4 linked regions of the Homo sapiens genome follow. The protein of the gene in region 1 interacts with the protein of each later gene in a biochemical or structural test. Each region holds a gene or a part of one and is shown in the gene's direction. Other genes may lie near its edges.

Region 1 (6,524 bases):
CAATAATATTCATGGGGAAAGGTAGCTGATCTCATGCACTAAGAAGAAAAAGGGCTGTGAGCTGCCACTTGGCTCAGCTTACCCTGTGCTGCCAAGAAACTCTCCCTTGTAAGGGGCTATCCAAGTTTTGGGGGGAAGTCATCCTTTACTGTTAAGGAATATTAGTCATGAAGAAGGAGGTAGGGCTCTGACTTTAGAGCACAAAGTTGGGAGTTCTCTTGGCCTTCTGTGAAGAAACTGTGAGAGAATATCTCAAAGGATACTCTGAAAAACTTGTCCTGAGAAAATATGGGGCTGTAATCACAAAATTGGGGAGCCTCAAGCCCTATTGCTGGCTTGTACCTCTCTAGGTGGTGAGGTCAGCATATAACCAAGTACAGAAGGTTGGATGAGCAGAGGAACTTCCCCTAGGTATAGGAGACTGAGGGATCAGATCTGTGCTATCCCTAGGGGCTGGGCAGAACAGAAGATAGGACAGCTGACTGAGACCCTTGGCACTATTTCTGGGTAGACTGCCACGCCACAGTCTCAGCTCATAAAAAGCTCCCCTCCTTGGACCCAGCCTACACAGCTGTTTTTCTTTTCCCTTAGGTTCATTTTCCAGGGTAGAGGAAATAACAAGTTGTTAGTTATATTGTGGGAGTATAGTCCGTCCTTATAATCTACACTTCTGTGGGGCTTTAGAGTTTACAAAGTAGTTTTTAAAGTTTTTATTTTATTAATCTTTACAGCAATTCTGAGATTCCACATTTTACACATTAGGAAACTAGGTACCAAAAGGTTAGGAAATTCACCTAATAACAGCAGGGTGAGGACTTGAACTCAGGTCTAACTATAAATCATATTCTCTAAAAAGAGCCTGGCTTGCTCTAATTGGAATGAGGGCAAAGTCAAATCAGGCTGAGCCTGGGACTTCAAGGCCCCCCCACCCCTCTCTGAGGGGAAGTCTCATGCCTGAACTGGCCTCCCTGATGATATGCCAAGGTTACTCCCACCCCACCAGGGGGCGGCACTCACTTAGAACAAGAAAGTTTAGATTAGGTGGCTTAGGGAGCAATTAGCAGTCACCCCCACCACCCTGCCCTCCAACATGTAAGAGTTATGGGCTTTTGGGAAACTGACCTCTCCAATTAAGAGTCTGTGTACCACTTGCTAGTTCCAAGGCCTAAAGAAGAGGAGACAAACGGGCCTTGTGGCTATTAAGTAGTAGGGAAAGGAATGGATCTTCTCAAGTAGATCCAGAATTAGAGGATAAAAAGAGGAGAAATCATAGTGCCAGGTCATGGTCATTGTGGTCCTTAGTTACTATGAGGTGAGGCCGGATGGACAAGTGCCACTCCTTGAAGGAACATCAGCACAGTTGAAATGCCATTACCTCAGGGTCCCAGGAACACAAGGAGTTCTTTGGCTAAAGAACCCTGGAACAAGAAGCATCATTCCCCAGGCAAAGGTGCTCCTTATCTTAAGAGCACCAGTCAGAGAAACAAGTAGTTTCTGACCGTCCCATGTACTCAGCCTCCTAGTTGCTCTAAGCACTTCTGGGCTCCTCCTGAATTTCTAAACTAAAGACCTCCAAGTGGGAGGTCAAATGCCCCCAAGGTTGAAGAGTTTATGCACAAATTCCTGAGAAATGGGGGAAAGGCACTGGGAAGGAGGTAGGGAAAAGAAGGCAGGTTTCGGGAAGGGGGGTGGCCAGGGGAGGGCCAAACCCCTTGTGTAACTAGCCTGCCCCGCGGCAATCAGTAAATATAAGCTGCACTGGGGGCTGAAGAAGCTGCCAATCTCAGCTCCCTGGGCCACTGGAAAGCATCGTTTCCCTAGTAGAATGTCACCAGTGAGGGAGGAAGGGAAAACATACAGCTTCCAATACCCAAGGCACTGAAGAGCTGGCAGAGCCTCAAGGGGAGCCTCACCATTGTCAACCCAGGGGCAACCCACCAATCAGGTACAAATATTGATTATGTACTGTGAGCTTGAGTAGGTATAGAATATGTGCTGTGAGCTTGGTGCTCTGGGAGGGCTTTGATGGGGGATGTGGGACTGGAGGACATTACACTTGGCACTTACACTCGATGAGACGAATTACATGAAACCATAAGCCACACAATATAAATTGGGTGAAATTGTGTGGCGCAGATTTTAAAAATACTATACTAGAAATTTGGCTGCCAAAGTCAAGCAGCCGCTTTATAAAAGAGGTGGAACTGAAGCTTGGTCTTGACGGAACTAGTAAAACTTAGAGAGGGGAGATCCCTCCTCGGAAAAGAGGGGAGGGGAAGATTGCACCTCACGCATTTGAGGCACAGCAGGAAGCCTGAACCTGAACTGAATGTAGTTGAGGATGTGTGTTGTGGATTGGAAGAAATAAGGCTGGGATTCAGGGAGGGGGGAAAAAGGAATCTTTAAATTCTATAGAGAGCTGGGTGGCCCAAATGCTCTGTGGGGAATGGAGCACCTGCTGTGCTGAGATTCCAGCCCTTCAGCCTATTCAGAGAACTGGCTCTGGGCAGGGCGGGTCCATCCTGGGCTGGTGCTGTACCACTGTCCCGTAAACTCTACCCAAACCTGCACTCAAGGAAAGGGGTGCAATGCTCTTTCCCACCTGAACCTAGTTCTTGCTGGGCAAGGAGCACGTCTCCCCAGTGCCCACCAGCCCCAGGTACCGCTCCCCCCACCCCCCGCAAAACACACACGAAGCCCTGGGAAGAGCAGAGTACCAGGAGCTTTTCCAGGGTGGGCATCCCCCGTGCTCTCTGCAGTGGATTATTACACGTTATCTCCCACCCGCTGTACAGAGAAGTCTGGAGCAGAGGCTGAGCAGCTTGTCTGGGAGCGGGAAATGTGTGTGGTCTCCCCTCACACCCCACCCCCACCCCTACTTCTACCAGTTTTCCCCCCTGGATTCAACTTTCTTTGAGTCTCCAGGAATACCCCTGCTGTGTTCCAGCACCCTTTTATCTTTTATCTTTTTCTCTTTTTTTGTAAATTATTTAAAGTTTTTCTTAAACTTTAATGACCTGGGAAATGAAGCCCCGAAATGAACCCTGCTGCGGTGGTGGCACCAAATCCTAAACCCTAGATCATCAGGGTCCAGCATCCTCTTAGACTTGACCGCTGGCCACTGACCTCCCCTACAGTACCTCACGCCCCTTTCCTGCCATCTCTGCCCCTCCAGAACTCGATCCGCCACAACCTGTCCCTGCACAGCAAGTTCATCAAGGTTCACAACGAGGCCACCGGCAAAAGCTCTTGGTGGATGCTGAACCCTGAGGGAGGCAAGAGCGGCAAAGCCCCCCGCCGCCGGGCCGCCTCCATGGATAGCAGCAGCAAGCTGCTCCGGGGCCGCAGTAAAGCCCCCAAGAAGAAACCATCTGTGCTGCCAGCTCCACCCGAAGGTGCCACTCCAACGAGCCCTGTCGGCCACTTTGCCAAGTGGTCAGGCAGCCCTTGCTCTCGAAACCGTGAAGAAGCCGATATGTGGACCACCTTCCGTCCACGAAGCAGTTCAAATGCCAGCAGTGTCAGCACCCGGCTGTCCCCCTTGAGGCCAGAGTCTGAGGTGCTGGCGGAGGAAATACCAGCTTCAGTCAGCAGTTATGCAGGGGGTGTCCCTCCCACCCTCAATGAAGGTCTAGAGCTGTTAGATGGGCTCAATCTCACCTCTTCCCATTCCCTGCTATCTCGGAGTGGTCTCTCTGGCTTCTCTTTGCAGCATCCTGGGGTTACCGGCCCCTTACACACCTACAGCAGCTCCCTTTTCAGCCCAGCAGAGGGGCCCCTGTCAGCAGGAGAAGGGTGCTTCTCCAGCTCCCAGGCTCTGGAGGCCCTGCTCACCTCTGATACGCCACCACCCCCTGCTGACGTCCTCATGACCCAGGTAGATCCCATTCTGTCCCAGGCTCCGACTCTTCTGTTGCTGGGGGGGCTTCCTTCCTCCAGTAAGCTGGCCACGGGCGTCGGCCTGTGTCCCAAGCCCCTAGAGGCTCCAGGCCCCAGCAGTCTGGTTCCCACCCTTTCTATGATAGCACCACCTCCAGTCATGGCAAGTGCCCCCATCCCCAAGGCTCTGGGGACTCCTGTGCTCACACCCCCTACTGAAGCTGCAAGCCAAGACAGAATGCCTCAGGATCTAGATCTTGATATGTATATGGAGAACCTGGAGTGTGACATGGATAACATCATCAGTGACCTCATGGATGAGGGCGAGGGACTGGACTTCAACTTTGAGCCAGGTACAGTACCCCCTAATCACCACAGCACCTCATAGCCTATTACCACTCCTAGGTGCCCAGCTAGTCCCATGATCTGGGCGAAGGGGAGATTTAGGACAAGTGGTAGCCAGAGCTCCTGGGGAACTGGAGGGAAGATGTCATATTACAGTAGCATAGTTTCCGGATGGGACCTCCAGGCCCCTTAGCTGTGCCCAGCCCTGCAAGGTAGCACAGAAAAGGTATGTGTATGGAAGCGGGTTAGGTGCCACCATCTTCTTTGGTGGGAATCTGGATGATAGAATGTTGGCAAGCCCCAGGTAAGCCTCTTACCTTGTTCTCTGTTTCTTCTTCCCACAGATCCCTGAGTCATGCCTGGAAGCTTTGTCCCCTGCTTCAGATGTGGAGCCAGGCGTGTTCATATCTACTCTTTACCCTTGAGCCCTCCCCAGGAATTTGGGACCCTGCTTTAGAGCTAGGGTGGGGTCTGGTCACACACAGGTGTTGAAGAAATTATAAAGATAAAGCTGCCCCATCTGGGGACGATATGGGGAGGGAGATGGGAGGGGAAAGGGGAGAGGGTTTTTCTCACTGTGCCAATTAGGGGGTAAGGCCCCCTCTCAGGAGCCATCATCGGCTTTCCCCATTCCTACCCACTTAGGCTTTGTAGCAAGATGAGCAATGCTGTTGGAAATGTGAAGTCACCAGTGGCCTTACCCCTGCCTTTGGGAGCAGGATTTTTTTGTAGAGAGTCTTATCTGAGCTGAGCCAGGCTAGCTGGAGCCTGGGATTTCTATGCAGTGGCCCCTTAGGCCAGTGATGTGCGGTGGGTGGGCTGTTTAGGGGATCTGGAAGGGCCAAGGTCTGAGCACTGGAGTGGCTCGCCAGGCCAAATCACCCTTAGAAGGCTGCAGATAACAGAAAGGCTTTTTATAAACTTTTAAAGAAATATAAACACAAATATAGAGATTTTTTAACCATGGCAGGGTGCTAGTGGTGGGCAGAATGCTTTTTTTTCTTTCTGAAGGCTTTGTGATAGTGACATGATACAAACACTACAGACAATAAATATTAGGAGACACAGGGAAGTGGGGAGAGGTGGGGAGTAATAGTAAACACAGGGAAGAGCTCCCCTACGGACCAGGTATAGAGAAAGGTCTATGCAGAAATAGGTTAGAGTTTCCCTAACAAAAAAGCTAACCCAGGTCCCCTCATTCCTTCAACTTGTGCCTGGGAGTGTGTGGTGTTAGGGTGCAGCCACACTCTTCTATGACCCAGCATGGGTTAGTGCTATGGTGGGAGAGTACATTGAAGGCCTGGAATTAGCTTGGGGCCAGGGAAGGGACTGGGAGGGGAGAGAAGAGAAGGAGGGAAGGATTTAGGATGGTAAAGTTAGGTACAGAGACCTCCCTGTTCAAGGCCCCTGACAGCTGTCCCTGCCCTTCTTCCCCTTCCCTGACTGCAGGGGTTATGTGGAAGTGTGTGTGGCAGCAGGCAGCGGGGAGGGGAGGAACAGGGAAGGGGGAGCTGGGGAGCTTGGCTGAGGGTCTGGGAAATGAGCAGGGATGGGGGGGGATGTGGATCAGGTTTACTAGCACCTGCCAGGGAGGCCATCTGGGGCTCCTTCTCCACCCCAGCCCCCAAAGCAGCCCTTCCCCCAGTGCCCTTTGCATCGTCCCCTCCCCCACCCCTGCTGTGGGTTCCCATCATTTCCTGTGTCAGCGCCTGGCCTACCCAGATTGTATCATGTGCTAGATTGGAGTGGGGAAGTGTGTCAAATCAATAAATGAATAAATTCAATAAATGCCTATAACCAGCTCTGGTTTCTGCTGCCTTGCTTCTCCCCTTGGATAAGGGGGAGGGAGGGGAAAAGGCAAAGGGCGGGAGGAAGAAACTGCCCAAAGGCAGAGACATGGAGGAGGGTGGGGGAATTTCACCCCGGGGAGGTGGTGGAGTGTGGGGGTGGAGGGACACCTAACCCCTGCAGGAGTAGGCGGGCTGTGAGATAGGCCTCCCAAGGGGAGGTAGTCTGGTTTGAGAAGACCCCACCCCCTACTCCGTTCCTCAAAGGCTCATTGTACTAGACTTCACAGCCTTCCTCACCCCCACCCATGTGCTTGCCCCAGCCCTCTCCTGCCGCTCCCATCCACCCTCAGAGCCTCCTAGGTGCCTGGGGCGTATGTACTCAAGCCTTAGTGCAGATATTGGGAGAAGGAGTCTTTCTAGAAAAAGAAATCTCACGTTAAATTCCAGTAATTTCACACCTAGTATTACTTCTTTTGCTTGGTGGTTTTATTGAGTTGGCGACCTTTATTC
Region 2 (6,214 bases), on another chromosome or scaffold:
GTTGAGTGAGGCTCCAAGAGGTAAAGTCACCTGCCAGACTCTCATTGTTCAGGAGCAGCAGAGGTAGGATCTGGACCTGATGGAGTCTGGAGTCAGCACCCATAACATGTCCTCCTGGACCTTGGGGATACACTGTGAGCAGGCTGGCTGGGGTCTGCCAGCACAGATAGGTGCCATTCTGTTTTGCATACTATTTCAGGGGGTCCTGAACACCTTGAAGCAGGTGGAGGCCCCTGCTCCAGACTGGGAGCTCCTGGAGAGGCCACCCTGTGTCTGTGTGGTTCTAAGCTGGAGCCACATCGAATCAGGATGGGGCTCCAGCACCCGACAGTCCCCATCAAATTTCACAGGTTTTGGCGCCGTCGGGCAAGGCTGACACATTGTCTTGGAGGAGGCCCAGGAAGTCTGGCCTTAGGGTCGCAGCCTGAGTTTCAGGCAGATAGGGCATGAGATTCCAGCATTTCTGCTTCGAGCCCCGTGGTAGATCCCTGTCTCCCTCCTTCCCCATGGCCTATTTCTGTCTCATTTATTCATTAACTTCTTGAACATTCGTGAACACCTGTTTTGTGCACAGTGCTGGGTTCTGAGGGTGCAGCAATGAAGAAGGCCAACCCAGCAGCCTCCATTCCTGCACTGTGAGGCGGGCAAGCAACACACCAATGGGACGGTAGTAAATGCAGCACCCAGGGGGAGGCACCTAACACAGTGGGGGATTAGGGGAGGCTTCTTGGGGAGACCAGAGGATAGCTGATGAGTTTCAGGCAGGACAAGAGGCTTAAACCAAGGTCTGCGAGGTGGGAGTCGGAGGATGTCATTGTCGCGGGGTCAGGTACAGGCTGAGCTAACAAGACACACAGGACCAAACCCCTCAAGGTCAGCCTCACAGAGCAGGAACTCAGGAAGAAAGCGTTTTTGTTTGTTTGTTTGTTTGTTTGTTTGTTTGTTTGAAATGGAGTTTCGCTCTTGTTGCCCACGCTGGAGTGCAGTGGCAACGATCTCAGCTCACTGTACCTTCTACCTCCCAGTTTCAAGAGAAAGCGTTTTTTTGTTTGTTTGTTTGTTTGTTTGTTTGTTTGAAATGGAGTTTCGCTCTTGTTGCCCACGCTGGAGTGCAGTGGCAACGATCTCAGCTCACTGTACCTTTCTACCTCCCAGGTTCAAGAGAAAGCGTTTTAAAAAAAAAAATCATTCCAGCTACTTGCGAGGCTGAGGCAAGAGGATTGCTGCAGCCCAGGGGTTTGAGGCCAGCCTGAACAATAAAGTGCGACCCCATCTCTGCAAAAGGAAAACAAAAACAGTCATTGCAGGCTCCCATCATAGCAGAAAATTTTCCAAGAGAGCTGGCAGGTCAGAGGCAGATCTGGGTGATATGAGCTATTGGTGTGCCAAAGTGTGGCTTTTATTTGTTTTTAAGTGGTATGGCTTGCACACTATGTGTGTGAGAGAGGACAACTTGGGCGGGCTGTCCAATTTCAGGGATCCCTGTGGCTGTGTCCCCAGCCCTGGCCGCTGGGGGCTGTGGCAAGGTGATGCTTGTTCAGGGCCTGGGCCTGGCTCCTCAGACGCTCAGTGCCTGCAGGCAGTCCTGCTTCCCCGAAGTAGGTGGGTACCTCTGGGGGCACCGTGCGATCCCCTGGCTGGCTTAGTGGTCCAGACAGAAGGGGGGACAGGGGACTCCAGTGCTCTGTGCCTAAGGCCAAGGAGATACCTAGAAGTTCAGGGAGAGGAGGGGTGGGAGGGGGTCCTAGCAACATCTGGTTTAAGTCGGAGTCACTGGTGGATGTGTCTGGCACAGAGGAGGACCCCGTGGCAGCCCTGGAAGCGGGGCATTCTGATCAAACCAGGGCATCACGGGCAGAAGCCTCTGTAATGTGCCATCCCAACAGAAGCTGGGGCCCTGTATGGCATCGATGTCCCTGTCAGACCAGGACACGTGGGCCGGCAGGGCCAAGGATAGGGAGAGCAGAGCAGTAGAGGCTGCGTCATCCCTGGGATGCAGTCCCCATGGAGGGGAAGAATGATGACAGCAAGGGACGTTGGTCAGGGTCCTGCTCGGTGCCGGGCACTATGCTGCATGTCACAGCCACTGGCACAAGACTGTCAGGCGGAGGGGCACAGGGATGTCAGGGCAGCAGGTCGTGGTGACATCCAGCTCAGATACCAGGACACTGGTGGCTGCCATGACGTGCAGCCAAACAGGGAGCTATGGCTGTGCTCTCACGGTGGTACCATTTCCACTGCAGTCCCAAGCAGGTTAGAGCGTGAGGCCGAGGGGCCCTGGGGACACTTGGATCAGTCCAGTGTGTTCAGCAGGTGCCACGGTTGGGTGTCCAGGCCTCCCAGCACTGGCTAGGTCACCCAGCAGTGTTCCCGTGGGTCTCCAACAGGCTCCAGGCCAGTGTATCAGCTATGTATGTCCTGGGCAAGTTGGCCGGCAGGTGTGTCATGGCATCATTTAGGTCAGAAGGAGCAAGGGTAGAAGTGTCAGGGTGACATTAAGAAACCCCCTACTGAGTGTGTCAGGGTGACCTTCACGTTGGAGAGAAGAACTGGTGTCCCTGGAGAGTGGCTGCCAGGCCTTAGGGTACACGGGGCGGGTGCAGTTCACCCAGAGGGCTGCCCTGGCTTGCTGGGGCTGTCGCACCACTGGCCTAGGGAGGACACTGGAAGGGACGCCCGTTTGTGTCAGAGCAAGAGGATTGGGGTAGGGCAGGCTTTGGCCCATGGGCACCTTCCTGGGGGTGGCCTGGAGTCAGGAAGGCGGTAGCCATTCCTCCTGACCTGGCACGTGCACAAGACTGCATACACACACTTGCTCACACACAGTCACACCACACACACCACGTGCACACACACGCAGCCCTCCCCACTTGGCTTCCGAAACGTGAGTCACTCAGATGCTACTCTGCTGCCGTCTTGCCCCCTCTGCTGGCAGCCCTGTTCCTCCTAACTCCACCAGCCCTGGCCTCCTCCGCCTCCTGGAGAGTCAGAGCCGATGGGCTAGTTTGGGCCACACAGGGTGGGGCCACCCTGAGTTCTGCCAGCATGCAGACTGTAGGTGGGGAGCCGGGAGAAGAGCTATGTTGCCTGCCTCTGGGACCCTGGGGCTACAGCCCACGAGTGTCCCTTGCAGAGCCCACCAGGGTGCCTTGGAGGCCCATCCCAGTGCCAGGCTGTTCTTCCCAGATGGGACAGCTGGGGCCACAGGCTGCCGTGGCAGTGCTGGGCTTTCTCTGGACAGCTCTCCCACCTCTGCCCAGGGGGCCCGGGGGGCCAGCCCCCTGCCTGGGTCAGCCTCTCCCTGCCTGCTGCTCTCCTCTGGCCCATCCAGCTTGTATGTAGATTTTCCCTCACGTGTGTGTGTGTGTGTGCATGTGTGTGTGCTGGTGAGAGTGACAGCGGGAGCAGGGATGTGAGACCTGCAGGGTGGCAGGGCTCATGGATGACTGGCGGGGTGCATTAAGTGCTCATGCTCGTGAAAGGCACCTCTTCTTGGGTGTGGGTGAGGACAGGTGTGACTGCGCATGCAGGTATGTGTGAGGAGAGGGGTTGTGGGGAGCATGTGCGCCTGTGAGGGGAGGCTTTCCAACTGAAGTGCTGCCTCCCCCGCTGGCCAGCTCTGGAGTCCTCCATCCTGTCTGGTCAGGCCCCCCCCAACCCCTGACCTGGCACTCCCATTCCGTTCCATGTCCACAGGCTACATCCAGAAGATCAAGTCGGGAGAGGAGGACTTTGAGTCTCTGGCCTCACAGTTCAGCGACTGCAGCTCAGCCAAGGCCAGGGGAGACCTGGGTGCCTTCAGCAGAGGTGCGCAAGGAATGGGCCTCACCAGGTTGGGGGACCCTTACCACCCTGAGGGGTAGAGGCCAGGAGGGTCTGGGCATTGGGCTCCCAGGTGCCACACCGGCCTTCGGGGTCCAGCAGGTGGCAGCACAGCCCCTTCCTCAGGCTTCAGAGGCTGCTCTGCTGGGCAGGGCCAGGGCCACACAGGGAGGGGGGCTGCAGCACTTTCTTCCTGGCATCATCTCTACCCTGGGGGGCATGGTCTCTTGTGTGTCTGTGCACAGATGTCCTCATCCCAGGCCCACCAAGGTGGGTACATCCTGTCCTCTGCCTCTTCCTTTTTGTGGTTTAAGGTTGAGGGCCCTGAGAGTCCCAGGGCCTGTCCCCCAGAATCCCTCTCAAAGGTGGGGAAACCAGGGGTGAGAGGAGGTGGCCCTGAGTTTAGGCCTGTCTGGCCAGGACAGTGGAAATCAGGGACAGAGGGGACTAGGCCTCCTCCTCTTCCTCCTCTTCAGTCCTCGGGGTCTACAGAAAAACATCAGGGAGAGGCCAGGATGGGTTGCAGGGTGTGGTGTGCAGGTGTCTTAGTGGGGTGGGGCGGCAGCATGGGGCCAGCAGCTGCCCACCTCCTCCGAGGAGGCTGGTGGGACAGATGACATGGCAGGGCTGGGAACCAGGCCCAGGGAGACGAGTTCACTACCGAAGTGGCCCCTAAATGCACGGCGGCGGCCGTAGCCCTGCCTGCTATCCTTCATGCTGTCCTCGGGCTTCCCAGGGCCTCCTTAATGGCCCTGCCACCCCCAGCTGGGCCGCCGCTCAGCACTGGCAATAAACATGGTGACGGATGAGTGTGGACGAGTGTGAGGCTCAGCGCAGGCAGGAGCCCCATCTGTCGCGGCTGCCACCCGCCCTGCCTCATCCTGGCCTCTGCCAGCCCAGCCCTGACACCCCCACCGCCCCTCCTGGCTCCCAGGTCAGATGCAGAAGCCATTTGAAGACGCCTCGTTTGCGCTGCGGACGGGGGAGATGAGCGGGCCCGTGTTCACGGATTCCGGCATCCACATCATCCTCCGCACTGAGTGAGGGTGGGGAGCCCAGGCCTGGCCTCGGGGCAGGGCAGGGCGGCTAGGCCGGCCAGCTCCCCCTTGCCCGCCAGCCAGTGGCCGAACCCCCCACTCCCTGCCACCGTCACACAGTATTTATTGTTCCCACAATGGCTGGGAGGGGGCCCTTCCAGATTGGGGGCCCTGGGGTCCCCACTCCCTGTCCATCCCCAGTTGGGGCTGCGACCGCCAGATTCTCCCTTAAGGAATTGACTTCAGCAGGGGTGGGAGGCTCCCAGACCCAGGGCAGTGTGGTGGGAGGGGTGTTCCAAAGAGAAGGCCTGGTCAGCAGAGCCGCCCCGTGTCCCCCCAGGTGCTGGAGGCAGACTCGAGGGCCGAATTGTTTCTAGTTAGGCCACGCTCCTCTGTTCAGTCGCAAAGGTGAACACTCATGCGGCCCAGCCATGGGCCCTCTGAGCAACTGTGCAGCACCCTTTCACCCCCAATTAAACCCAGAACCACTGCTCTGCTCTCCTGTGTCTCATTTCTCCTCAGGGAAGCATAGTGGGGAAGATGTCGTGGGGAGGGGATCATAGCCCCCCCATCCTAAGGGTCCCAGCTGCAAGTTCTCCCCCGAGGCTTCCCCTTGCCCTGGGCCAGGGGGAGTCACAGCAGCTGGCTCTTGGGGACATGGGCACTGTCCAGCTGCCCAGCACCCTGAGATCTGCTTCCCTGCCATCTCAGGGGCTTCCAGAAGGTTCGTGGGTCCAACCCGGCACCTGGCCCAGCACCCATTGCAGCTGCAGTTACCATGACAACAGGGCCCTCCCGGACTGGAGGGGGCTCCTGCAGGGAGGGGGATGGGAGCAGACATGGCTTTTAGTGCCTGAAGGTGGAGCAGAGGGAATCCTGGGGTGGGTGGCGGGGAGATGGGGTCCCCCGCCAGTGTGGGGGCTGTGGATGTGGCATGCCTGACCCCCATCCCCTGTTCAGTCGGGGGGCTGTGGGTCTGATGGAGAAGTGGTTATTCCTGCATGCCCTGTTCCCCCTCCACTTGATGGGGACCAGCCCAGATTGCGGGGGTGCCTGGCTGGCAGAGCTTAGGGACCTGAGCAACTAAAGCCCGGCCCCAGGGGACCTCCCCTCCCCCAAGCGCTGAGTTTCTAATAAAGGCCAAGCCTCATAAACAATCACCTGTGCCCGCTCCCATCTGGCTGGCTTCGGGAGCAATCGCTCATTCGCCTGCTGCCTGCCTGCCGGAGCATTTGTCATTAGGAAGGTTTAATGGGTTTCCTCTCAGCTCCAGAGGGCTGGGGAGAGCCGGCTGCATGGATACACCGCCAGGCAGAATGTTCTCCCATCGCCTGGTGGAGGGGGGTTGGGAGTGA
Region 3 (8,342 bases), on another chromosome or scaffold:
TTGCTGTCTATTTGATAAGTATTGAAATCTGAGTTGTGATGAATAAAACATGAATTTTTATTTTCCCTTAAGGTGTAACAAGTGAAAAGCAATTTGAAGTTGGTAATGTTTAAGAATTATTTTAACAGTTTTGGTCTTCTGTGTAGGCCCTTCATTATATGTTGTTGGTATCTGAAGTAGAAGAAACTGAAATCTTTAAAATTTGTCTTGAATACTGGAATCATTTGGCTGCTGAACTCTATAGAGAGAGTCCATTCTCTACATCTGCCTCTCCGTTGCTTTCTGGAAGTCAACATTTTGATGTTCCTCCCAGGAGACAGCTATATTTGCCCATGTTATTCAAGGTAACAGAGCGGTTGGTTGAGTGTTCTTCCTGTTGCATACTGTGGTTTTGAGGTCTGAATCCAAATACTTCTAATCTGTGTAAATAAATTAGCTATAAAAAGAGAACCCAACAACTTCTCCATGAGTGTGGAAAACTAGAACATGAAAGGAGTTGAGTCTAGAACCTTGATTCTCAAGAGTGTGGTCCTTCTCTCAGTATCAACATTGGTTGTGATTTCGTTAGGCAAATTCATTGGCCACCTGCCAATCTACTAAACCAGAGTCTAGGAATGAGACACAGGAAACTCCTGTAACAGAAGTTGGTTAAAAAAATCACATTAAAACACACTTAAATAATTATAAAGCCATTTTTGTAGAATTACAGTGAAAAAAAATTTTTTCTTTTGGAGACAGGGTCTTGCTCTGTGGCTCAGGTTGGAGTGCAGTGGCGTGGTCATAGCTCACTACAATCTTGAACTCCTAGACTAAAGCAATTCTCTTGTGTCAGCCTCCCAAGTAATTGGTTGCAGGCACACACCACCATGCCTAGCAAATTTTAAATTTTTTAGTTTTACTTCATTTATATTTACATAGTTTTTTCTGTTGTGCTTTAAGCCCCAGTATTTTTATTGTTTTAGAGATTGGGTGTCATTTTGTGTTGCTCAAGCTGCTCTCAAATTCCTGGCCACAACAGTTCTTTTTGCCTCGGCCCTCCGGAATAGTTGGAATTATAGGCATGAATCCCTACACATGGCTGGCTTGTGGTTTTTTTGGTTTTGTTTGTTTTTAACTAAGCTTCTACACTAATGATTTCAGTGATCTAACGATTTTTTTCTTGATTGATATATTGTTGAGTATAGGTCCGTTTATTAATGGTTAGTCGAATGGCTAAACCAGAGGAAGTATTGGTTGTAGAGAATGATCAAGGAGAAGTTGTGAGAGAATTCATGAAGGATACAGATTCCATAAATTTGTATAAGAATATGAGGGAAACATTGGGTAAGTTAATAAATACTGTTAATCTTTACCTTTATAAATCTATTCTGGGGTGGAAATACATTTTAGGAAATGTACTTGTAGTTTCTAAATATTTTCTAAATGTATTGTTACTCATCAATAAAATTCTGCTCATTATTTGCATTTGAAACCATGTTTTTCTTTGTAGTTTATCTTACTCATCTGGATTATGTAGATACAGAAAGAATAATGACAGAGAAGCTTCACAATCAAGTGAATGGTACAGAGTGGTCATGGAAAAATTTGAATACATTGTGTTGGGCAATAGGCTCCATTAGTGGAGCAATGCATGAAGAGGACGAAAAACGATTTCTTGTTACTGTTATAAAGGTATGCAAGGGATAGGTATGAATTAGAATTGCTAAATAAGTATTATGTTGTTACAATAAATAATACAAATTTGTCTTATTTACAGGATCTATTAGGATTATGTGAACAGAAAAGAGGCAAAGATAATAAAGCTATTATTGCATCAAATATCATGTACATAGTAGGTCAATACCCACGTTTTTTGAGAGCTCACTGGAAATTTCTGAAGACTGTAGTTAACAAGCTGTTCGAATTCATGCATGGTAAATCTCTTTCTTTACTATATTTTGCTTTTATTTTTATTGAAGAAAATAAATGAATGTTTTTGTCTTGTTAGAGACCCATGATGGAGTCCAGGACAAAATAAATGAATATTTTTGTCTTGTTAGAGACCCATGATGGAGTCCAGGATATGGCTTGTGATACTTTCATTAAAATAGCCCAAAAATGCCGCAGGCATTTCGTTCAGGTTCAGGTTGGAGAAGTGATGCCATTTATTGATGAAATTTTGAACAACATTAACACTATTATTTGTGATCTTCAGCCTCAACAGGTATGTTAAGCACTGAGCATATGTTATTTTTAGAAAGTAACACTTGTATCAATCTGTATGTATCAATGGAAATAGGAGGGCAACTATTGGATCCAATAGAAGTGTTTCTGATTAAATTTTCTTTCTTTTTTCCTTGAGACAGGGTCTTACTCTGTTGCCCAGGCTTGAGTGCAGTGGCACAATTACGGCTCACTGCAGCCTTGAACTCCCAGGCTCAGGTGATCCTCCCACCTTGGCCTCGTGGGTAGCTGGGACTACAGGCATGCACTGCCATCACACTCAGCTAACCTTTTTCCCCCCCTTGGTAGAGATGGGGTTTTGCCAAGTGGCCCAGGCTGGTCTTGAACTCCTAGCTTCAAGCGATACGCTTGCCTCAGCCTCCCAAAATGATTTTATATGTGTGAGCCACCACGCCCAGCCTGGTTAAATTTTCATAGTGAGACAGATTCTTGACCAGAAGATTGTTAGGCTGTTGTCCTATGTAAAATTATTCCGAACAAACAAAATCAGGTGTTTTTTGTTTTGTTTTGTTTTGGGGTGTGTGTGTGTGTGTGTGTGTGTGTGTGTGTGTGTGTTTGTTTTTTGAGATGGAGTTTCACTCTGTCGTCCATGCTGGAGTGCAGTGGCGCAATCTCGGCTCACTGCAGCCTTGCCTCCTGGGGTCAAACGATTCTCTTCCTCAGTGGCTATGATTAACAGGTGCTTGCCACCACGCCCAGCTAATTTTTTTATTTTTAGTAGAGACGGGGTTTCTCCATGTTGGTCAGGCTCATCTCCAACTCCTGACCTCATGATCCGCCCGCCTCGGCCTCCCAAAGTGCTGGGATTACAGGCGTGAGCCACCACCATGCCTGGCCAGTTTGGGTTGTTTGTTTGTTTGTTTTTTGAGGTGGAGTCTTCCTCTGTCACCCAGGCTCGAGTGCAGTATTGCAATCTCGGCTCACTGCAACCTCTGCCTCCCAGGTTCAAGCAATTCAAACCTCCCAAGTAACTGGAATTATAGGCACCTGCCACCACGCTTGGCTAATTTCTTTGTATTTGTAGAAGAGATGGGGTTTCACCACGTTGGTCAGGCTGGTCTGCAACTCCTGACCACAAGTGATTGGCCTGCCTTGGCTTCTCAAAGTATTGGGATTACAGGAGTGATCCACTGCACCTGGGCCAAAATCAGTTTCAAGACGTTTGTGAATTGCTTGTGTGTGGTTTTCCTTATTAGGGTGTATAACATAAACGTTAAAATGTCTGCTTTTTAAAATAGGTTCATACGTTTTATGAAGCTGTGGGGTACATGATTGGTGCACAAACAGATCAAACAGTACAAGAACACTTGATAGAAAAGTACATGTTACTCCCTAATCAAGTGTGGGATAGTATAATCCAGCAGGCAACCAAAGTAAGTATTTCTACCTTTTCTTAAAAGTTTTCATGGGATTTAACAAGACGTGTTCTTTACAAATGTATTGAATTCAAGCCTTTTAACATGTATGTGTGATCCATAAGTGCTTTTATGTGTGTCTTTCTATAATTTATTATCTGGGCGAGGTGTGGTGGCTCACGCCTGTAATCCTGGCACATTGGAAGGCCGAGGCGGGCGGATCACCTGAGGCCAGAAGTTCGAGATCAGCCTGGCCAACATGGCAAAACCCCGTCTCTACTAAAAATACAAAAATTAGCTGGGCGTGGTTGCACATGCCTGTAATCCCAGCTACTGAGGAGGCTTAGGCAGGAGAATCACTTGAACCCAAGAGGCAGAGGTTGCAGTGAGCCGAGATTGAGCTACTGTTCTCTAGCCGAGACGACAGAGCAAGACTCTGTCTCAAAAAAAAAAAAATAAATGAAAAATCTGGGCCGGGCTCGGTGGCTCACGCCTGTAATCCCAGCACTTTGGGAGACCGAGACGGGTGGATCACTAGGTCAGGAGATTGAGACCATCCTGGCCAACGTGGTGAAACCCCGTCTCTACTAAAAATACAAAAATTAGCCAGGCATGGTGGTGGGCGCCTGTAATCCCAGCTACTCGGGAGGCTGAGCCAGGAGAATGGCTTGAACCCAGGAGGCGGAGCTTGCAGTGAGTCAAGAGCATGCCACTGCACTCCAGCCTGGTGACAGAGGAAGACTCTGTCTCAAAAAAAAAAAAAAATACTGTAATTTCCATTCTCATTTGATATTAAAATAGGAATAGGCTGGGTGTGGTGGCTCATGCCTGTAATCCCAGCACTTTGGGAGGCCGAGGCAGGCGGATCACCAGGTCAGGGGATCGAGACCATCATGGCTAACGCAGTGAAACCCTGTCTCTACTAAAAATACAAAAATTAGCTGAGTGTGGCGGCGGGCGCCTGTAAGTCCCAGCTACTCAGGAGGCTGAGGCAGGAGAATGGCGTGAACCTGGGAGGCAGAGCTTGCAGTGAGCCGAGATCACGCCGCTGCACTCTAGCCTGGGCAACAGAACGAGACTCCGTCCCAAAAAAAAAAAAATAGAACTATATTACTTCATTCTTAAGTAGATGTAGACAAAAAGGCGTTTGTGTTCGTTTTTACCATTTGGGATTATAAATATGGTTTAGGGTAAGGGAAGCGTAATGGCTTTTGCTTTGGTAATTATGTGGATTTTTTTTTTTTTTGAGATGGAGTTTCACTCTTGGTGCCCGGGCTGGAGTGCAATGGCGTGATCTCGGCTCACTGCAACCTCTGCCTCCCGAGCTCAAGCAGTTCTCCTGCCTCAGCCTCCCAAGTGGCTGGGATTACAAGCAAGCACCATTGTGCCTGGCTAATTTTGTATTTTTAGTAGAGACAGGGTTTCTCCATGTTGGTCAGGCTGGTCTTGAACTCCCGACCTCAGGTGATGCACCCGACTCAGCCTCCCAAAGTGCTGGGATTATAGGTGTGAGCCACCTCGCCTGGCCATTATGATGGATAATTCTTTTTTTTTTTTTGAGACGGAGTCTTGCTCTTTCGCCCAGGCTGGAGTGCAGTGGTGCGATCTCGGCTCACTGCAAACTCCATCTCTAGCGTTCACGCCGTTCTCCTGCCTCAACCTCCCGAGTAGGTGGGACTACAGGCGGCTGCCACCACGCCTGGCTATTTTTTTTGTATTTTTAGTAGAGACGGGGTTTCACCGTGTTATCCAGGATGGTCCCGATCTCCTGAACTCATCATCCGCCCGCCTCGGCCTCTCAGAGTGCTGGGATTACAGGCGTGAGCCACTGTTCCCAGCCGTGGATAATTCTTATATGATAAATGGAATTTGCTTTTTTTCCTCCAAGAATGTGGATATACTGAAAGATCCTGAAACAGTCAAGCAGCTTGGTAGCATTTTGAAAACAAATGTGAGAGCCTGCAAAGCTGTTGGACACCCCTTTGTAATTCAGCTTGGAAGAATTTATTTAGATATGCTTAATGTATACAAGTGCCTCAGTGAAAATATTTCTGCAGCTATCCAAGCTAATGGTAGGTGATTCTGATTTCTTACACAATGCAGTATAAACAAACCACTTCTCTTCTACTGCCTTAAGTCAAACATTTGATGTTTTTTACAGATTTAAATCAGACCTCCCATTTCCCAAATGACCCTAGACATATTTAAAACAGTTAAGTGTACCTTTCCCTTTTAAAATTAGTCTTAAAGCTTATTTTCCCAATAAATTTTGTGAACTTTTGGCTTTAAACTTTTTAATGGTAAAATGGAATTGCATCTAATGTACACCTGAGTACCACTGTATAAGTTTAGTGGTAAAATTAGATTCCATTTGATTCTGTTTTGTAGGTGAAATGGTTACAAAGCAACCATTGATTAGAAGTATGCGAACTGTAAAAAGGGAAACTTTAAAGTTAATATCTGGTTGGGTGAGCCGATCCAATGATCCACAGATGGTAAGTGAGAGATGCTTTGCTTTTGATTTCTAGTGTTGATGCTGTGTTTTATGGAATATGCTATACTCTATTATGTGCATTTTGCTAATTTAAAGCATATCAACTTTGTGGTTATTTTATGGCATTTTATTTATTGTAGTCCTTACGTTAATATACTAATAGCTGTATTCCATCTTCAAAAGAAACTGCTGTTAATCAGTAGCGAAGGGTGGTGATATGTAACAAGATAGCTAAGAAAATTGGGTCATTTTATGTTTCCATAGATAGGTTAGGAGGATTTAATTAATGGAGTACCGGTGCAGTTTTTGCATTCCTCTTGATTTTTAGAACAATTGCTAGAGCTACAAAGTTGTCATTACTTTACCTCTTTAGCAAAGTGATTGCTTCCCAGATTAAAGGCCTGAAAGTCTTTTTTACACCCTTTTTCCTAAATGATTTGCAGAAAAGGAAATCATTTTCAGTAATAAAAACCAGCTGCGTATGCCTCAACTTGTAAAATTGTGAATTAGTTTTAGGTTTTAACTGTATCGTTTCATTCTTGTTATTCAATTGAGCCTTGGGAGAGTCCAAAAAATTCTAATACTACTATTACTTGGAATAGTGTTGGTTTTTTGTTTTTTGGTTTTTTTTTTTACAAGTGTGCTAGTTATTTTCATAGTTTTGAAATTTCAGTATTGTTTCTTGTTAAGGAAATACTTTTCAGTAAACTTGTTCTGAATATAATTCTTGTGGAATACTTAAGTTGGCTAACCTAAATATCGAAAGGTTCTGAACATGCGTATTATGTGAACAGAACTGTATTTAAAATTTGAAAGCAGAAAGTAAGATGTATTGAAGGAATTGTGATGTTTGTAATTTACAAGAAGCTTGAGCACGTGTCGGGAGCACAGTGGGAATAATACAAAGGGTATCATCTTTTGTAACATTAATGTTAAAGTTTGGGATATTTGTTCACATGAAACATTGTGTTTATTTTCCTTGTCTTGGCTTTTCACGGTGGCTCATGCCTGTAATCCCAGCACTTTGGGAGGCCGAGGCGGGTGGATCACTTGAAGTCAGGAGGCTGAGGCAGGAGAATCACTTGAACCCCAGAGGTGGAGGTGACAGTGAGCCAAGATTGCGCCATTGCACCCCAGTCTGGGCCACAAGTGGGAAACTTCGTCTCAAAAAAAAAAAAAGAACAAGAAGTTACTCTTTAAGTATAACTCAGTTTACTTAGAATCATGAAAATCTTACTGGGCATTGTAGCATGCACCTGTAATCCCAACCACCAGGGAGGGTAAGGCAGGCGAATCACCCCAGCTCAAGTCCAGTTTAGGCAACATGGCAAGATTCAGTTTCAAAAAAATAATAGAAATCCATAGTCTTTCTTATTTTCTGAGAGTAATTGATTGATGTTATTTCTGCTTGTGAAAATACTCACCAGTTAGCATTCATTAGATTAAAACATTAGTCTGAGTTGGGTGGATCACGAGGTCAGGAAATCAAGACCATCCTGGCTAACACGGTGAAACACCCCGTCTCTACTAAAAATATAAAAAATTAGCTGGGCGTGGTGGCAGGTGCCTGTACTCCCAGCTACTCGATAGGCTGAGGCAGGAGAATGGCGTGAACCTGGAGGCGGAGCTTGCAGTGAGCCAAGATGGCACCACTGCACTCCAGCCTGGGCGACAGAGCAAGACTCCGTCTCAAAAATAAAAAGACAGTATTGAGGGCTCGCTTGCTGCCATCTTACATATACAGTATACGTAGAATCCTGATTCTGCCACCTAAGTTGGAGACACCCACTGAATTTTGAGCCTCACTTTTCTTATTGTGAGAGTTTTGTAGCTGGGCATGGTGCTATACCTATAGTCCCAGCTACTCAGGAGACTGAGGCACAAGAATTGCTTGAACCTGGGAGGTGGAGGTTGCAGTGAGCAGAGATTTGCCACTGCACTCTGGTCTGAGTGACAGTGAGACTGTCTCAAAAAAAAAAAGTCTTGAATGACAGTGTGTCCATGAGACTTCCCAACCCATTGTGATTTCCTGCTTTCTTTTGCTAAAAACTGTTTTGACGTAGGAAACCCTAATACAAACACAAGATTTTCCTGTTTTCAGTAGATGATCATGCTACATCTCATAGACAGGAATAACCTTGTTGTTTAAAATAGTCACCATGTACCTAAATTAAAACATAACTTTTTTTTCCCTCCCCAACAGGTCGCTGAAAATTTTGTTCCCCCTCTGTTGGATGCAGTTCTCATTGATTATCAGAGAAATGTCCCAG
Region 4 (8,342 bases), on another chromosome or scaffold:
CTGTGCCCGTGCCCACTTCCTTTCCCGAGGGCAGTGTCTACACGTGGGACACTGTGGCCAGCCCTCCCTCGCAGCAGGCACTGTGTGCTGTCCCCATGCCCAGCTTCCTCCCACGCAGGGAGCGAGGGTGAGGGCCCTGGGAACCCACTGGGTGGAGGGCACTTGGCAAAGCCTGCTGCAAGTTATGGGGAGAGTGGGCGGGGGCAGAGTAGGAGGCGCCAGGGAGGGGCTGCAGCCTCATCTGCAGGGGTCCTGAGTAGGCAGGGTGGGCCATGACATGGGTGGGGCTTGTTTGGGGCAGACCAAAAATGAGGTGGGGGACAGGGACAGGGACAGGGTCTTGGGATGTGCTGGGCTCTGCGATGGATGGGTGTGTGGCAGGTGGGGTGCCTTTGCCGGCCCGAGGGGTGGGTGACGGGCAGTGCCTGTGGGGGAGGACATCCAGGCCCAGGTGGTCTGTCAGGGGCAGCACCAGGGAGGCCCAGTACCCCACCCAGTAGAGCCCCAGGAGAATGGAAAGCTGAGACCCAGGTGCTTCCCTGGAGTGGCAGGAAGAGAGGCCCCAGCGCCTCCGGCTGTGCCTCAGCGAGGTGGACGGGGTCATGGTGGTGCCGCCTGCCCGCACCATGTTCCTCCCGGGGTGTGTGTGTCGGGCTGAGGCCTGCTCCATGGTGGAGCGGAAGGAGGTGAAGAATTTGCAGTTTGTGTCAAGTTACAACCCCTGCCTTGGCGGCAGGACCTGGGGTCTCTCTGGTCATGATCTGCCTCTGAGGGTCACCTCCCCTAAGTCTCCGTTTTCCCAGGGAGCTGATGGGCATGATGAGCCCTGCCCGCCCTGCCTGCCTGGTGGGCTTTCTGGGAGAGCAGAATGGGTCCTGGGCTGGGCGAGGCCCAGGCAGGTGGAGCGCCAGTCCTCTGCCTGGCGGGAACAGACACCTCTCCTTGTGCAGACTGGCCACTTGTGCCCCCTCAGAAGGGCTTGTGCCGGGAGGAGCAGTGGATGTATTTCACCCACAGACCTGGGGGCTCCAGCCAAGTGGGGTCAGCTGGCCTCCGTTGTGTGGCCCCTCCCCTGCCCCCACCCCAGCCTGGTTGTTTACAGGGTTCGAGGGCTGCTGGTAAAGGGGTGTGTACTCCCGGGCCCGGGCAGAGGCCTGGCAGGCCGGGCCCTTCGCGGTGAGCTGTGCGGTCTCCTGGCAGGCGGGGAGGGTGGGTTGCGGGCCCCTCATGGGCTGCCGTCAGCGGAGCCGTCTGCTCAATGTGCTGGAGAAGGTAAATGGGCCCCCGGCAGCTGTCGGGGCGATGGATGTGTCGGCAGTGGGGACCACGGTGGCCGCTGTCAGCTGGCGCCCGCTCCCAGGGCCTGCTGGGCTCACTTTGCTGTGGAGAAGCAGCTCGGTGCCGCCTGGCACCCTGCCAGCCGCTGCCACCACCGTCTCTGCGAAGTGTTTATCCAGCAGTTTCCTGAGAACTGGGGACTTTGAGAGAATGTTCAGGGAGCTGAGGACGTGGTGGCCTAGGGGGGCTGACACACCTGGTGGCTCAGGAGGTGGTCAGTCCCGGGACGTGGAGGGCCACCAGCTGGCCCTCAGGGGCCCACCCAGTCCTGCCCATGGCGCGTGGGTCCTGGCCCCCATGTCTAAGTGGGTGCCGCTTTGGGGGGCCTGACCCACAGTGTGGCCTGGGACACGTGTGTGAGGCGTGGAGAGGGTGGGCTGCCTGTGACTGTCCATGTGGTCCCCGTGGTGGTGGTGGGGTGGGTTGGGGGAGGCCAGGCAGGAGCAGCTTCCTCTCAGAACCCCGGTATTTGGTCCAGGAGGACTTCTGGGAAGGAACCCTCTTTCCCTGGGGGTGCTCCAGCCCCTTCCTGGGGATGAGCGGGGTTGGGGATGGAAGGTCACTCCTGCCGGAGGGCCACCCGGGACATCGGGATGCCAGAGGGACCAGGGCTGGGGTTGTGTGGGGCCCAGGAGGTGCAGGAGGAGTCGAGGGAGCCTGGTCTCCGCTGTCCCCCCGGGCAGGGACAGGAGTCTGGCCAACTGCCTACCCCCCACCGAGGGCAGCCACCTCCCATGCCTGGAGCCCTGGGCCATGGATGTGCTGGCTGGTGGGGAGGGTTACGGGTTTCATCAGGCACAGGAGCCCCTGCCCTTGTGGCTTCACAGGACCTGGTCTTGGATAGGTGCAGTGTCACAGGGTTAAGGGTCAGGGTGGCTCCCACCTGGCCCAGGGCTGGCCTTGAGAGAACCCTGAAGGGTGGGACCGGAGCTGCTGCCTCCCACTGCCCAGGGGGCCAGCAGGAGGGTGAGACTGGAACTGCTGCTTCCCCGCTGCCGAGGGAACCGGCCATGGGGCAGGAGGGTGGGACCGGAGCTGCTGCTTCCCCCTTGCCCAGGGGACCAGCCATGGGGCAGGAAGGTGGGACCAGTCCCCAGTGCCGTCCTCCACTCGGCCCCCCACTCAGGTCTTCTGGCAGTGGTGTGGGGTCCCCCATCCGGACTTGCTGACATTTCTGAAGGGGCACCTAGCCGTCTTCCCTGCCAGACCCTGAGGCCCAGGCCGGGGTTGCACTGGGACCCTGCCTGCTCCAGGTCCCGGGTCTGAAACATGTGCAGCGGGTGGGGACTTGGGGGTTCTTGAGCCCAGCATGGGGGTGTGAGAGTTAGGGACTGAAGAGGCCCCCTGGGCCTGAATGCTGGGCGGTCTCCATTGCCCTTGGGAGTGGCTGCTGGCAGGAGATGACTCTGGCTGTGTGTGGGGTGGGGCGTGCCCTGGCCTCCCCATTTGTTGCCTGCCTGTACCCGTCTGGAGTGAGGGCCTGGCGTGGCAACCTGGGGGTCTGTGCCCACTCTGTGTTTGGTGCCCTCAGCTGTGCAGGCAGGTGGGTGGGGTGGTGTTGGGGGGGTGACTGGGGTGGGGTGGGGGGATGCCAGCTGGCTGATGGTGGGGAGATGGAAGGCCCCTCTGTGGCGGGTGCTTCCCATGGTCGGTGTGGAGGACGAGGTCCCTACTGCCTGGTTCCAGTTCCCCCAGCAATGCAGGGCACTTTTCCTGGGGTGTCAGGGATTGAGAGGCCACTCTTCAAGTGGACTGTACTCCTGCCTCGAGTGGGGGGCATCTGAGGACCACAACAGGGTGGGGAACTCAAGTTAAGTCCTGGATGACAGGTTCCAGTTCCCCTGGGGACCCTCAGGATAGTGAAGGAGAAGACTCCATGTGGGTTGGTCTCTTTGTGTGAGGGGTCTGGGAGGGCAGCCCTGGCTGATGTGTCTGTGCTCCCACCCTCCTGAGGGACCCGGAGTAGGCAGGTGCAGGCCTGCAGGCGTCCTGTGGCCATGAGGACAGTGATGCTGGGCCCCGGGTGGCTGTCTCCTCCACCTGCCCCGTCCTGTGTCACCCCAGTCCTGGATCAGGGAGTAGTGGGGCCCTGCCGCATCTGCTGTCGGGGCTGGCCGCCCACCCAGCATCCTGTCTGGGCTGAACTCGTTAAGATGCGCGCCACGGCCCTGGCTGCAGCTGGCACCCCCCCAAGTGATCCTCTAGCTGACCCTCTAGGCGAGAGATGAAGAAAGAGAACTGTGTGTCTCTGGACCCCTTACCCCGGGTCCCTGGGGATCCTGCTCCTCCCCTGGAGGGGTCTGTGTGCTGGGCTGGGATGCCGAAGACAAAGGCCACGTGAGGCCCCTTCACTCACACCCGTCTCCTGGGGTAGGCCCTGATCGCCGTCTGTTCCCTGGGTCTGTGGGGCCAGGCGAGGGGAAGGCACTGAAAGCCCAGGGCCCATTTGGGCCTCTGCCCATCCCAGGACTCCCCAGGAATGCTCGGGGCTGGGCACCTGTCCTCTCCCACCCCCCACGCCTGGTAAGCGCCGCCCCTGGGCCTGCCCCTCCCGCACCCCCAGATCCAGCTCCCAGAACCCCCCAGATGCAGCTCACAGAACCTGGGGCTGGGCTTGTGGCAGCAGGGTCAGGGGCAAGGCTGGGGTTGGGCACGGGAGCTGCGTGCTCGGGGGCAGCACGGGGCCATGCTGGGCACGGTGGGGGCTGGCAGCAGTTGGTGGATAAGATGGGTTTCAGGGGTGCCGGGCCTGGGCGCTCATCAGTCTTCCCGCTCAGTTAGCGTCCCGGGGAGTGGCAGCTGGCAGGATGGGAGGCACTCCATCAGGGGCCGACAGCTCCAGACTGGCATGCAGGCGGGTGGGCGTGAGCAGCGGGGTGGCCCAGGATGGGGGACGGGTGGGGTGGGCTGCATGCAGCCCCCTGAGCCTGCTCTGCTCTCACTGAGCGCCCCTGCCTGCCCGCTGCACCTGCAGGGGCCCTGTGGCTGGGGGAGGGGACGTGGGAGGCGGGGTGGAGCTGCGTGGCACGTATGTGCGTGTATGTGCACACTCGGGGGTGTGCGAGATCCCAGGTCAGGGACAGGAGCCGGCACCCAAGGGTGGCAGGACCACGCCTGCTCGGCAGCCCACTGGCAGGGGCATGGAGGGCTTGCGGAGTGGGTGGGGTCTCCTGATGAGTGCTCTTGGGCACAGGGGCAGATTCTGGGCCCTGGATCATCCTCCCTGCAACTGGGTGTTGGCCGTCCTCCAGAGGTGTCAGGCAGCTATGAGTGGGCTGTGGCTGTCCCCTTCCTGGTCCACCCCAGACCTGACAACAGCCTCTTCCCACACTCAGGCCCTGCTGGGTGGGGTGTCCCCACCCTCCACCAGCATCCCCCCAGCAGCCCTGGCTTGGGCAGAGAGAGGGCTGGTCTTGTGGAGACCACGCCCCGTGGTGCTGGTGGGAAGGGCATTGGGCAGCTGGGGCCGGGGTAGGAGGGAGAGGTCACCTGGCCGGGGGGTGGCCATGTGTCGAGCCTTGGTGGCTCACCTCTATTAAAGAACTCCCCCGTGGCTCCCTGGAAAGTAGAATGCCTGCTGGGATGCCCATGACCCATGTCCTCTGAGCTCCCCTGGGGCTGCTGCCCTGCTGGGACTTCCCTGTGCACCAGGGAGGGCTGGACGCGTCTGGGCTCACCACGAAGACCCAGCAGGACTGGGTGGTGGGTGGTCTGGTGATGGGACAATTGCTTGTCCCCCACATCCCTCCAGGTGTCCCTGTCTGGGGCTCAGTGTGGCATGAAAACCCAGGCCCCAGAGCTCAGGGACCCCAACCCCTTACCCTGGCCCCCTCCCTAACCCCTGCCCAGTGACCCCTCAGATGAAGCAGTTGCCTAATTAGTAAGTTCCCTGTTGTTCAAACTCCTTGCTTGGCAAAATGTAAGTGGAACATTTTTTTCCGAGTGTCAGTATGAAAAATGGTACTTGCTGGGCTATCACCGAGGACAGCTGCTCTGATTCTGAAGTGTGAACGCCTGCGTACGGCTGATGCTGCAAAACTTGAGGGAGAATGTTCCCGTGTACCTGAATGACCCACGGGTGGGACGCGGCAGGGCCGACGGCGGCAGGGCCTGAGTGTGGGTCTCAGCCTGGGGACTTGGCACCCTCTGTGCCCTGGGGCCCCTGCCCAGCTGGCTGGGCCACCTCCGTGTCTGGCTTCATCGGCAGTCCCCAAGACGGTGCTCCAGGCCCCTAGACAGGGAGTGCGATCCCACGGCAGTGGGCAGTCCTGTCCCGCGAGCCCGGCCCTCAGTCTGAGTGGTGCTGACCTCTAACTGTGGACGCCATGCTCCATCCTCCTGGTGGGTGGCGGCGGGGCGGGGGGGGCGGCCATGCTGGGCAGCCCACACAAGCCACTGTCACCTGCTGTCGCCACCTGGCCGACCCTGGTTGATTGGGGAATGCTGTCAGCCCCGCAGCCCCTGTGGCCATAGCTGGGGCCCGAGCTGCTGCTGGTGCCTGCTGGGGACTGGCTGGTTTAGGGCTGCCTCCTCCAGGAAGGCTGTGCAGACTGGCCCAGACCTCTTCCCAGCCTCCTGTCCATGGTACTCCATCCCCTGCGTCCAGCTGGCCCAGCCCGTTTTCAGACACAGCTCGGGGTGGCTCTTCTGAGAGGGGCGCTGTGGTGGGGCGAGTCTGCCTTCCCGTTGACCCAGGGCCGTTTCTGTCGCTGGCCCTAAGAAACAGCTCCCGTACCGCGCCTGCCCCCTGGGACTCAGGCATCCCAGGCACATCTGTCCTGGCACACCCAGTTCCTGCCTGGCTGCCTGGCGAGGGTCTGACGGGTAGAGTGTGCGTGGCTCTCACCACCCGCACGTCTGTAGGGGAGTACATCAAGACCTGGCGGCCACGCTACTTCCTCCTCAAGAATGATGGCACCTTCATTGGCTACAAGGAGCGGCCGCAGGATGTGGACCAACGTGAGGCTCCCCTCAACAACTTCTCTGTGGCGCGTAAGTATCCCCTTGGCCTCTCGGGATTCAGATTTGGGGGGTTGGCTGGAGCCCTCTTTGCCCACCAGGCCCCACGATGGGGGTCCCCTGGAGCCTCCAAGTCCTGGGCTGGCAAGCAACAAGCACTGGCTGGGTGGGGGTCTCTGGGCCGAGTCCCGAGGCTGGCTGGGCAGGGGTCTCCGGGCTGAGTCCCAAAGCTGAGGCTGGCTGGGTGGGAGTCTCCAGGCTGAGTCCTAAGGCCGAGGCTGGCTGGGCAGGGGTCTCTGGTCCAAGTCCCGAGGCCGAGGCTGGCTGGGCAGGGGTCTCCGAGCTGAGTCCTGAGGCTGGCTGGGCGGGGGTCTCTGGTCCGAGTCCCGAGGCCGAGGCTGGCTGGGCCGGGGTCTCTGGGCTGAGTCCCGAGGCCGAGGCCGGCTGGGCAGGGGTTTCTGGGCAGAGTCCTGAGGCCGAGGCTGGCTGGGCGGGGGTCTCTGGGCCGAGTCCCAAGGCTGGCTGACCCTGGAGCAGTTCCCTGGTGCCCATGCTCTGGAAGCTGGAGGGTCCGGACAAGTGGCAGCAGAGCCCAGTCTCAGGGTGGACAGCTGCCCCGGGGGCCCCTCCTCCAAGGGGGTTAGATAGAGCCCATCAGGGCCTCTCCTTGGGAAACCCCTTGGGTGAGGGGGCAAGAGTCCATTGGGGTCTCCAGCTCTGAAGCCTCCATCACTCGAGGAAGAGCTCGTGCCTCTCCCTGCACAGGCTCTCAGCCTCCAGACCCCATGGCAGAGCCTTTGCTTCCCCTCTGTGAGGCTGCCTCCTTGCCCATGGAGGGGCAGGTGCAGAAAGGCCAGCGGGGGACCTTGGCCGGAGCATCCCACAGAGATGAGAGACATGTGACGCTCCCTGCTCCGCCCTGCTGTGGCTTTATTCCTTACCTGTAGCGGGGGCAGGTGCGACCCTACCCATGTCAGACGGGAACCCTGGCATGGAGACCCAGGCGCCCTGCTAGGTGGGAGGCTGGGGACACGTGGGCCTCCCAGCATGGTCCCCATTTTCTGTGTCCCTGTCCTGGAGCCCAGCTCTGCCTGTGGCAGCCAGAGACACGGGTTGGGCATGCAGGTGTGACTGAGTGGCTAATTAGGGCCCAGTTGTGGGCCATCTGTATGTGGCAGGGCTGGGTAACTGCAGGCCTCTGGGATCTGTCTCAGGCAGGTCTGTGGTGCAGAGCGAGGTGCCCACCAGGGGCTGGCCTTAGGTTCCATCCCCATGTGCTGCATCGGCCCCTCCCCTCCAAGTAGCTCTGCCCTCCTTTCTTTGAGGCCTGCGGTCCTCCGACTCCCTTGAACTTGCTGGACCCCCAGGTTCTGGTCCAGGGTCTGGGAGGAGGTTAAATGCAGGGAATCCGTCCCCAGGCTGGGCAGGGAAGGACTCCCACCCTTGGTGCCTGCACGTATAAGGGGAGGTGGGGTCAGTCTGGCACCCTGGCTGCTAGGTGGTCTGTGGCCAGCAAACCGTGCCCTGAAGCTTCTAGTTGGGAGGGGCAGAGGCCTTGCCCTGCAAAGCCCCAGGCTGAGGGGCTGGGGTTGGGGTGGGGTTTACCAGGACCTGGTTCCTGTAAGCCGAGGTCTCCTTCCCTGGCTCTTCCAGCCTCAAGCCAGCAGTAGCAGGGCAGCCTGATAGAGTAGGGCACCCCAGGGGTGAGGGGAGACCAGGAAGGCAGACACCCCTGTCTCCTGACAGCCTCGTAACCATGCAGGAGACTCACTGTGACTTGTCCCACACCCTCCCCAGTGTCTCCTCGGTTGGGGCTGGGGGCTTCAGGGATCAGGGAGAGGCTGGGTGCCAGCAGCGTGCCTGGTGGCACCTGGGACAGGGCCTTGCTGGGGGTGGGTGCTGTGGGTGTGCTCGCCAGGCCGAGGCATTGGGAAGGAACGAGGTGGGGAGCTCTCTGGAGAGGCACACGGGTGGGTACCAGCTGGAGGTGTTGCCTGAGCAGCTGGCAAGGCTGGGGCCTTCAGATTAGGCCATAGGTGAGTGGC

The links.
Region 2: the proteins of FOXO4 (region 1) and PIN1 form a complex in vitro, tested with the Homo sapiens proteins (one study listed by BioGRID).
Region 3: the proteins of FOXO4 (region 1) and XPO1 form a complex in vitro, tested with the Homo sapiens proteins (one study listed by BioGRID).
Region 4: the proteins of FOXO4 (region 1) and AKT1 form a complex in vitro, tested with the Homo sapiens proteins (2 studies listed by BioGRID, with this or other methods).

Annotation. Positions count from the first base shown.
Region 1 is NC_000023.11:71,097,509-71,104,032, forward strand, and holds the end of FOXO4 (forkhead box protein O4), read left to right. Parts: intron 1-3,175; coding exon 3,176-4,232; intron 4,233-4,568; coding exon 4,569-4,576; 3' UTR 4,577-6,024; downstream 6,025-6,524. Other genes in the region: uncharacterized protein CXorf65, read right to left, coding at 6,479-6,524. UniProt on the Homo sapiens protein: Transcription factor involved in the regulation of the insulin signaling pathway. Binds to insulin-response elements (IREs) and can activate transcription of IGFBP1.
Region 2 is NC_000019.10:9,844,334-9,850,547, forward strand, and holds the end of PIN1 (peptidyl-prolyl cis-trans isomerase NIMA-interacting 1), read left to right. Parts: intron 1-3,696; coding exon 3,697-3,807; intron 3,808-4,756; coding exon 4,757-4,866; 3' UTR 4,867-5,356; downstream 5,357-6,214. UniProt on the Homo sapiens protein: Peptidyl-prolyl cis/trans isomerase (PPIase) that binds to and isomerizes specific phosphorylated Ser/Thr-Pro (pSer/Thr-Pro) motifs.
Region 3 is NC_000002.12:61,485,896-61,494,237, reverse strand, and holds part of XPO1 (exportin-1), read left to right. Parts: intron 1-146; coding exon 147-344; intron 345-1,184; coding exon 1,185-1,323; intron 1,324-1,489; coding exon 1,490-1,671; intron 1,672-1,756; coding exon 1,757-1,913; intron 1,914-2,039; coding exon 2,040-2,203; intron 2,204-3,461; coding exon 3,462-3,596; intron 3,597-5,466; coding exon 5,467-5,650; intron 5,651-5,966; coding exon 5,967-6,073; intron 6,074-8,275; coding exon 8,276-8,342. UniProt on the Homo sapiens protein: Mediates the nuclear export of cellular proteins (cargos) bearing a leucine-rich nuclear export signal (NES) and of RNAs.
Region 4 is NC_000014.9:104,778,076-104,786,417, reverse strand, and holds part of AKT1 (RAC-alpha serine/threonine-protein kinase), read left to right. Parts: intron 1-6,201; coding exon 6,202-6,330; intron 6,331-8,342. UniProt on the Homo sapiens protein: AKT1 is one of 3 closely related serine/threonine-protein kinases (AKT1, AKT2 and AKT3) called the AKT kinase, and which regulate many processes including metabolism, proliferation, cell survival, growth and angiogenesis.